Linked DNA regions of Homo sapiens: region 1 is linked to region 2. The links come from fine-mapping of genetic effects on gene expression. A gene starts in region 2. The other region holds a variant in brackets. All regions are shown on one strand. Distances are between the middles of the regions. Region 1 overlaps RXRA (retinoid X receptor alpha). Region 2 holds the start of RXRA (retinoid X receptor alpha).

Region 1 (4,365 bases), 51 kb before region 2:
GGGTCCTGCTGTGCAGAGGAGGTGTGGTGGGGAGGAGCTATAAGGCTGGAGGAGCCGGGTGGCCCCACAGGCTGGGCTGCATCCCAGGAGCTCAGCTGGCAGGCAAGTGACCCAGCAGGAGCTGCATTTGCTGACTGACAAATGGGTGGCGGCTGAGGTCCACCCCCACCCTCAAGGAGGGAAGGCAAGAGACGTGTGTTCCCACCCGAGGACAGCAGCAGGACCTCTCTTCCGGGCACAGGATGAAGCAGGACAATCTGACTTGAGGAAACAAAACAAAGTCACAGCCAAGGATGGTCTGGCTCCTGCCCTCCAGGCTCCAGAGGCCGCTCCTGAAGCTGCCGGGACTCCTGCAGGCACCCCTACAAGGCTGGGGTGCTTCACAGCCTGGGGTCTGCGGGGGCAGCCTCCCTCGGCAAACCCCAACTCCAGGCTGCCTTTGGGAGCAACCGGACGGCACGCGCTGCCCAGGGTCAGAGCTCCCTACCCACCCCTCCTGTGACTCTGAGCGGCCGACCCAGCCTAATGGCCACAGTCCTGAGGCTGGCAGGGGCAGGGAGGGCCACCACTTCGGTACCTTCCCCAGGTACTGCTCCTTGGGGACAGGTGACAGGGGCCACAGCCTATTCCCTCGGCACCCAGGACCCTGCCTCTAAGCAAATAAACCAACAAGCATCCACATTTGCCTCCAGGCCACAGGACCCTTCGGGACCAGGCCAGCTCTGTTCACCAGCTGCGTTCTGGAGGCAGATGGCCACAGCCCTCTTGGGTGGCAAGGGTTAAACCACACAGTGGTAAGGACCCCGCACACAGGCGCTGGCCGGCACACACGCCTTCAGGTGGCGGCAGCAAGGCAGCAACACCAGCACCGGCCTGGCTCCCCAGCGCTGACCCAGCAGACAGAGAACTCGCCTCTCTGCCTAGGATGACAGCATCCAGCCAGGGACTCATCTCCCAGGAAGCAGCCGGGGTGGCCTGGCACTTCCAGAGCTCTGTGCCTTGCCTGTGCCCTCTGCCCCGGCCCTGCCCAGAACCCTGGGTGGCTGCCAGCTTCCTGCCGAGCTAGCTCCTCGTCGCCAGCCACAGTCATCGTGAAACCTGCTCGCCACCCAGGGCACCACTGTGCCCCCATGGCCACCACTCCAGGAGGACAGCACAGGGGCCAGGCCTGGGTGTGGCCGACGCTGAGCTGCACATAACCTGCCCCAGCTCGGCCCTTCCGCACACACCTGGATTCTCACAGCCCCTCCAAGGGGGGCAGAGCAGGAGGGTCCCCACTCAGCACCCCATCAGCTCACGCAACGTCCCCCATACTGGTTCTGATGGAGGTGGGTGTGGAGGGGGGCAGCGAGATGGCTTCCTGGGGACAGAAGCTGGTCTGCAGAGCACGAGGGTATGACAGATCAAAACGCACACACAGACGGTGGAAATCGGGCAGCAGCTGGAAGTCAGAATAAAAATGTTACATCTCTGCAAGAGTAGAGTGCTCCTCCCTGACCCCCACATCCAAACTGACCTCTGTTTTCATAAAGGCCAACAAGAGACAGAAGTGGTCCCGGAGAGGGAAGTTGGGAAAACGGATATCTCCGAGGGGTCGCGGGAGCTGGGGGTGTGGGTGTGCTGGCTGCAGGGCACACACACACGGAGACTTCACCCAGCTGTGCAGGAAGGACACGCATGCCTTCCCGAGCGGTGATGCCAGCACACGCAGGGCTGAGTTCTAAGGAGGGCCCAGCCCCACAACTGTGCTGGACACTGGGGACCCCTCCCATGCTCTGGGCCTCCCATGCTCCAGGCCTCCCATGCTCTGGGCCACCTGCCCTTGGTCAGGCAGTGATGGGGACAACGCCATCGCCTTCCATGTGGGACAGCATGTGGCCCAGGGAGGGCAGCCAGCTCGCCATCAAGGACCCAACACCCCTGGGGCTGGCGGAGATCAGTAACCCCAACACTGCCAGAGGCCCCCAGAAATGAAAGCGGAGCACAGACAGGGTGAGAATGGGTACTGTCAGTGCCCAGCACGGATGCAGCGAGCTTGGGGCTCCGTCCCCAAAGGCTGAGCAAGACTGGCCAGGTCCCCATTCCCAGTGCCAGCCCCTCAC[A/G]GGGTCGGCCCCTAGGCCAGCAGTCACAGGGCTGCCAGGAAAACCCGGCTGACGGGTCAAGGACAGTGGGCGTGGCACAGGGCCAGGGCACACAATCGCACACTCAGCCAGTGAACACGTGGCCCAGAGGTCAGCCCAGCGACTGCCCGCCACAGGTAAGGAAATGCTTCCTGCACCCCCTCAGAGACTCGACGCCCAAGGTGCCCTCACCATGCCCCTTCCCTCCCTCCTGAGACCCTGCAGCCTGCAGGCCCAGCCAGATCCCTAGGGCTGCGCCCCTGGCTGGTCTCAGCTGCAAGGAGCCAGGAGGTCCCTCTCTACCACGCTTTCATTTCCATGCCCAGTGCCCAGCTTCCCCCAGGAGCACAGCCAGGGAGGGTACTGCCCACGCGCTGAGCACCCGAGATGCACCAGCCAGCACAGGTCTCACTGGTTCTCTGAGAGCTCCCTAAGCATCACCTTCTATAGACAGAGAACGCGGCAAGGCTCCAACACACAAAGGTCGCCCTGGCCGAGGCCACGCAGCTGGCCAGGCTGTCAAGTCATGAGCCCAGGGCTGCCTGAGCAGAGTGTGGCGGGCGGCAGGGGAGGAGAGAGAAGAAACGGTAGGACAGGGCAGCAGTGGGGGCTGTGGTTGGGCCACTGGAGGGACCTCTGCCCCCGCGAAGGAATGGAGACAGCATAGACGGGAGCAGTGTGGATGGGGCACACAGGCACACGCACAGATCAGAGCACGAGGCACACACACATGCATAAACACGCACCCTGCCAGGCACCGAAGCTCCTAGACCCCCACAACCCTGGGCACTGCGAGGTGCGACAGCTGGCATGGGCAGGCCCCGCGGCTGAGGGTGCCCCTCTGGGCCTCCACAAGAAGGCCTGGCTGCGCCTGCAGAGGGGCCGCCTTCTTCCGCCCCAACCAGCGGGGCCGGTGGGAGGGTGCCTTCCTTCCTAAGGAAGATCCCAACTTTGATAGGAAACACAAATCTGAATTCCATTTTTGTTTTAAAAAATTAATAAATAGCAAGGCTTGTCATGATCTGCCCGCATGCGGAGAAGGGAGGCCAGCAGGCTGCGAGCCTGGCGGGGTGGGGTGGGGGGGAAGCAGAGAGAGAGAGGGAGGGAGGGAGGGAGGGCGGCCGGCAGCTTGTTTTCTCTACGTGGCCTCTGCCATCGAGTCGCAGGGCACGTGGTGTTTGTTGTTTGTTTGGGGGAGTGTTTTACAGAATCTCAGCATCCCCCAGCCACTAACACAAACTCTCACACCGAGAATGCTCTCCTGCCAGAAGCCAGCCCTCCTACTCCGCACCAGGGAGTGGCTGCTTCCAAATCGCCCTCACCCCAGCCCTCAGGCTTCTCCTCCAGCCCTGACAACCCACACAGGGCCCAGAGCTGCCGGCCCCGGGCCCACCTGCTGGCCACCCCAGGCTGCCCGCTGGCCCTGGCCCGTGTTCCCAGCTGTAAAACTAGACGGCCAACCCAGCGTCACTCCCAGCTCTCCCGCCAGGCCGATCATCCACACACAGTCTCCGGGCTGACCCTCAGATGAACCAGGGTTTATTCCGGGCCAGGACCTGCCTGGAATCCCCTGCCCACTGCCTGGAGCAACTGTTCACAGTGTCCACAGCCCACCCGGGAGCCCTCGGCTGCCCTCCATGAAGAGCATCCCCCCTCAGACCCCAAAAGCCACTGCAATTCTGGAGGCAGGAAGGTTTCCTGGGTGCCCAGCCAGCCACAGCCATCGGAACCAGGCCAGGAAGACAGCAGGCAGCTCCCACCTCCCCACAGTGACACGCGCTCTGGCCCGGCCTGCTCTCCACCCCCAGCCTTGGGTCATTCCAGGAACATGTCAGGCTCTCTCGCCTCTAGCCTTGAACATGCTGTTCCCTGGGCCTGAAACTCCTCCACCTGTTTCCTGGCTCACTCCAGCCTGGCTCCGTTTTATATAACACCTCCTCCAGGAAGCCTTCCCAGAGTCTCTCAGTTGGGGTAGGGGTCTCATCTCCTACACACCCCCTCAAGAGCACTCCCTGCAGTGCAGGGCACAGTCAGCCCCTCACCCTGGGTGCCAAGGCTGAGGGCTACCGAGGATAGAGCCATGGCCACTCCATTGTGACACCCTGGGCCCTGGCCAGTGCCTGGCACATAGCAGGTGCCAAGTACAGACCTACAGGATAGCGGGACCAGGTCGGCGCCAGCTGCAGGAGTCCTTAAGAACTAGCCAGGCAGGCGCCGAGTTCCAAGGAGACCCAAGCAGTAACAC
Region 2 (4,367 bases):
TCCCTGTCCCACCCGGAGCATTAGAAACAGGGACCTGTTCGGTTCTCAGTACTCAGCTGAAGTGCAACCAGCCAGGCCCCTGCCACGTCCAGGGGCCAGACACTGAGCTGAGCATTCTTGTTCCAGAGGAATCGTCTGGGAGAGCCTAGCTCTGTGTGTGTGGATGTGTGTGTGCACATGTGTGAGTGCAAAGCTTTAACAGGGAAAGGCAGCCCCAGCCCACTCCACACTGCACTCGGTCACAGACAGCGCAGCATTCCCTCCTGCCTCACACTCAGCAGTACCACGAGCTGGGGGTGCTAATCCCAAATCCACCACCTTGTATCCTGGGGGCTCAGCCTCTCCCAGCCAGTTTTCTCATCTGCAAAATGGGCATGAGCGCCCACCCCTGGAGGCTGAGCCCTGGAGCTCATTCAAGGCCTCGAGCCCACCACTCCATCATGACAGAGGCAGGGAGTAAGCGTTAGGTCTGACAAACCTGGAACCCACCGCCTGCCCCGGTCACGGGGCAGCACACCTGCCTGTGAGTAGCAGAGGTACTCAGACTCTCACCCTCACATCCAGGAGGGGCTAGGTCCATGCTGGCTCCCCTTGATGCCCCATCTCACTAAACATCCCTGCAGCTACATTGGCTTCTGAGCACCTCCTGGGGTGGCCAAGCTGCACCCCAGGCTGCAGGGAGGGTGGGCAGGAGGGGCTACGGATGGCGGGGGCTTCATTCATAATCAGCTGTTTCGATTTCCATTCAGCACAAATCCTTCACCCGGCCTGACAGCCTGGCTGCCGTCCCACCACCAAATTAATATCCTTCCCGGAGCTAATTTATAAAGTCTCCCCCTTCTCACTAGCTTCCAAACCCTTGGGAGGGCAATGGGTGGGGGCCCCAGCCATGCCCTCTCCCCCTTCTCGGTAGGTCTGGGCCTGGAGTTGGCGGGCAGTCTGGGATAGGAAGCTACCGGGCGGGATGGCAGGAGGAGGAGGGAAACTGACCCTACGCGCCTCTGCGCTGTCCTGCTCACAAATGGAGAGCCAGCCTGGGAGAACACCCGGGGGTGCCAGAGTGAGGGGCCCCATTTCTGGAATGGGGCCTTCCCAGGTCTGACGTTCTGTTCATACAGCCCCGGGGGACCCTGCCCACCCGGGCGTGGGCTGCTTTGGGGATAACAGGGTCCCAGTCTGTTTCCTGGGCGGACACACACCCAAGGGCCAGCGGCCTGCTAGAAGCCGCAGCCCGACGGGCGGGCGGCGCAGAGGCCGCTCGGGGCCCAGCGCGCCGTCCCGGTCCCCAGGCCAGGGAGGCCGGAGCCGCGGAGCGCAGAAGTTGCTCCTCCCGCTCCGGCCGGGTTCCTGTGCGGCGCGGCTGCAGCTGGGCGCCGGGGCGCAGGCGGCCGCCGGTGAGCGGGAGACCCCTCCTCGTCCCGGGCGAACCTGCCACCCGCCCCCCGGCCCCGCCGCCCGCCCGCTGCCCAGCCCCGCCCCGGCCCCGCGAAAAGTTGCCCCGGGTCGACCCTCCCCGGGCCCGGCGCCCGAACTCACGCGAAGGTCGGCGAGGGGTCCGAGCGGGGCCCGGGCCGGCGACCCCCCGCGCGCGCCGCCAACGCGCCCCCGGCCCCCTCCCGCCCGCCGGCCCCCGGCCCCCGGCCCCGTCCCCGCCCGGCCCGGCGAGCACTCACCGAGCGGCAGGAAATGTTTGGTGTCCATGTCTGCGACTAACTCATGCCCGGCCGGCGGCGCAGGCAGCGGGCGGCGGGCGCGGCGGCCCCCGGCGCGGCCGGCCCGGGCCCGGGCGGCGGGGAGCCGGCGGCTGCGGTGGCGGCGGCGGCGCGCGGAGGCCGCGGCGCGGCGAGTTGTTGCAAAAGTCGCCCAACAATGTAAACTACTTGTGTCTGCGCGCCGCCGCCGCGCGCGCCCGGCCCGCGCCCCCGCCGCCGCGCGCCCGCGCCCCGCTCCGACCGCGGCGCTGCGGCGCCGGCGGGGGGGTGGCGGGGGGCCCGCGACGGGCGCTGACTCGGCGCAGCGCCGCCGCCACCGCTCGGCCCGCGCCCCGCCCGCCCAGCCCCGCCCGGAGCGCGCCCCCCTCCGCCGCCGCCGCCCCGCGATCGCCGCCCGCCCGGCCGCCGAGTTGAGAGCGCCGTGCAAACTTGCGAGTTCGCCTCCGCCAGGGGTTCCCGGGAGCCGCGAGGAGGCGGCGTGGGAGGGGGCGGGGCGCAGAGGGAGCGGGGCGGGGGCGGGGGCGGGAGCAGAACTCCCTCCCCGGGCCCGCCACACACTCGCGCACACACACACTTGCGCGCAAGGGCCCGGAGGAGGCGGAGAGCCGGGCCGGGAGCCCAGCGGCCGGGCCATTGTCTGCGCGGCCACACAAAGCGGCCGGGCGGTGGCCGCGAGGGGACCCCGGCCCGGGCCAGGCAAGCGCAGAGCCGGGCGGGATGGCCGCGGCACCCATACCTCGCACCCCGCCGCGGCGGACACGTGGGGAAACTGAGGCCCGGGAGTGGCGATGTGCCCCAACGGCAGAGGACAAGCTCCTCGTCCGGGGAAGGTTTCGTCTTCCGGACGCTACCCCCGGTCCACCCCACACTTTCACGCCCTACCCCCACGGAGAGACCCACGAGCCCACCGGGAACGAGGAGGGGTGCGCGCTTCGCCTCCTCATCGACCCGCACTCCTGGGACCCCTCTTCAAAGGCACCAGGCTGGGCAGGCGCTGCCCGGAGTTGGACACAGACTTTGTGGCCGGTGGCTATTTTTATACCCTGGGTAGTTCTCTGCCTGACTTTTAAATTCACGATTTGTTTGAAAACGAAAGGAAGCACTCCTGCCCCGGGACAGCTCGGGCCGCCTCCGCCGCGCGCCGCCCGCCGCCCGCCGTCTCGGGCGGCTGGAATTCGGATTTGGGTGTGAGCTACCTGCGCGCCGCCAAGCCCAGCCTTCCTGAGCAGGCGCCGAGGCGCCCCGCCGCGCCCTCCCTCCGCACCCCCACCGCGAGCTTGCTGACCACCTAGACCTAAGGGCCCGGGCTGCGAGGCACAGGGACTGACCATTCACGCAGGCTGCGCGTGGTGGCCCGGGTCAGGGGACGCTAATGGGGAGGGAGGTGAGGAGGTGATGACCGCGTGTGGACAGCCATGACACGGCCCAAAGATAACAGCCCGAGACCAGAGAGGTGTCCTGCTGCCTGGGTGCCCCTCAAGTCGGGCCACCCGGAGCTGGGTTCCACGAGGGCTCCGGTGGCCTGTTCCGGTGGGAGGTCTTGGTTCCACTTGGGACAGAAGTGCCCTGGTTGGGCAGCCCACCCCCAGCACAGCCAGAGCCCAAGGCAGCCCTCTCCCCCTCCCCCTCTTCACTGACCCCTGGGCCCCTACCAAAGGCCACCCCGTCCCCCTATTCACACACCCTGTCCAACAGGCAGCCTGCCCCACTCCCTCCGGGATGAGGGCCACTGTTGACACCTGGTCCTCACCCACTGTGGTTACAGCCACAACAGACCCACTTCCCCACTGCACATGGCATGCCGGCCCAACCCACTGCCCTTCTAAAACTGAGTTCCTCCTGCCAGGGAGGGGGGCGGCAAACAAAGGATAGGACTGAGAAAGAGCCCCCGTAAGCACCAACATACACTGCAAAAGTGCCATGTGCCCGCCGCGTTCCAGGCCTGTCTCTGTGACTGCTTGGGCCCCTCCTGACTGTACTCAGGTTGGGGGGTTGGGGGGGAGTCCCAGATAGACAAGGCCTGGGCCAGATTGCAGGTCCACCTCCTACCAACCGTGTGGCCTAGCTGGGTCACTTCCCTCCTTGTATCTCAGTTTTCTCATCTGTAAAGTGGGAACAACCACTCCCTCCTCACTGAGTCACTGAGATGACTAAGTGAGATAATATGGAGAGTCTGCGCTCGGGAGGACGAGCTCGGTGTGACAGTTATTGTGATGATGATGATGATGAAATGACGCTGAATTAGGCAGGCCGTTCGCCTATGCTCAGTGCAGGGAGAGCAAGGCTCTATCCAGCCAAAGGGCTCAGGCAGCTTTTGGGATCACTGGTTCTTGAGTCAGGTTTTGGAGCAGGGAGGTTCCATCAGGCAGTGGCCGCCCAGGCAGCAGGGCCGGCTGAGCAGCGGCCTGCAGAGAGAAGGAGCAGCAGGCCGCGGACGGCAGGTCAGGACACGCCAGGCAATGGTGGGAAGGCTGGGCTGAAGTGTCTGAGGTCACCTCCCAATAGTGGGCGGTGTGGCATGCTGGACTCTCCACCCCACCCCCATCTCACTCCTTGTCCCTGAAAACTCAAGACTCAGGAGCTGTTGGTGCCTGGAGTCGGGGAGGCACATGCAGACAGATTTCCATGTGGGTTCCTCCTGGGAAGGCTGAAGGT

What was found. PIP is the estimated chance that this variant, and not a neighbour inherited with it, causes the effect. A credible set is the group of variants that fine-mapping cannot tell apart.
Region 1: its variant is the best candidate, but not a certain one, in a credible set for the expression of RXRA in skeletal muscle (GTEx, PIP 0.64).

The regions. Positions count from the first base shown.
Region 1 is chr9:134,374,807-134,379,171 of GRCh38, reverse strand. The region is part of intron 1 of RXRA (retinoid X receptor alpha); the gene reads right to left. Among named protein-coding and RNA genes, the nearest start is that of MIR4669, 2.4 kb to the left of the region's middle. RefSeq lists enhancers at 1-679, 680-1,471. The variant A/G (reference allele first, on the strand shown) is at 2,103.
Region 2 is chr9:134,323,966-134,328,332 of GRCh38, reverse strand. RXRA (retinoid X receptor alpha) reads right to left here and starts at 1,878. Exons shown (of 10, transcript NM_002957.6): 1 at 1,674-1,878. The coding sequence starts at 1,701. RefSeq lists an enhancer at 1-592 and silencers at 1,203-1,342, 2,081-2,130, 2,201-2,380.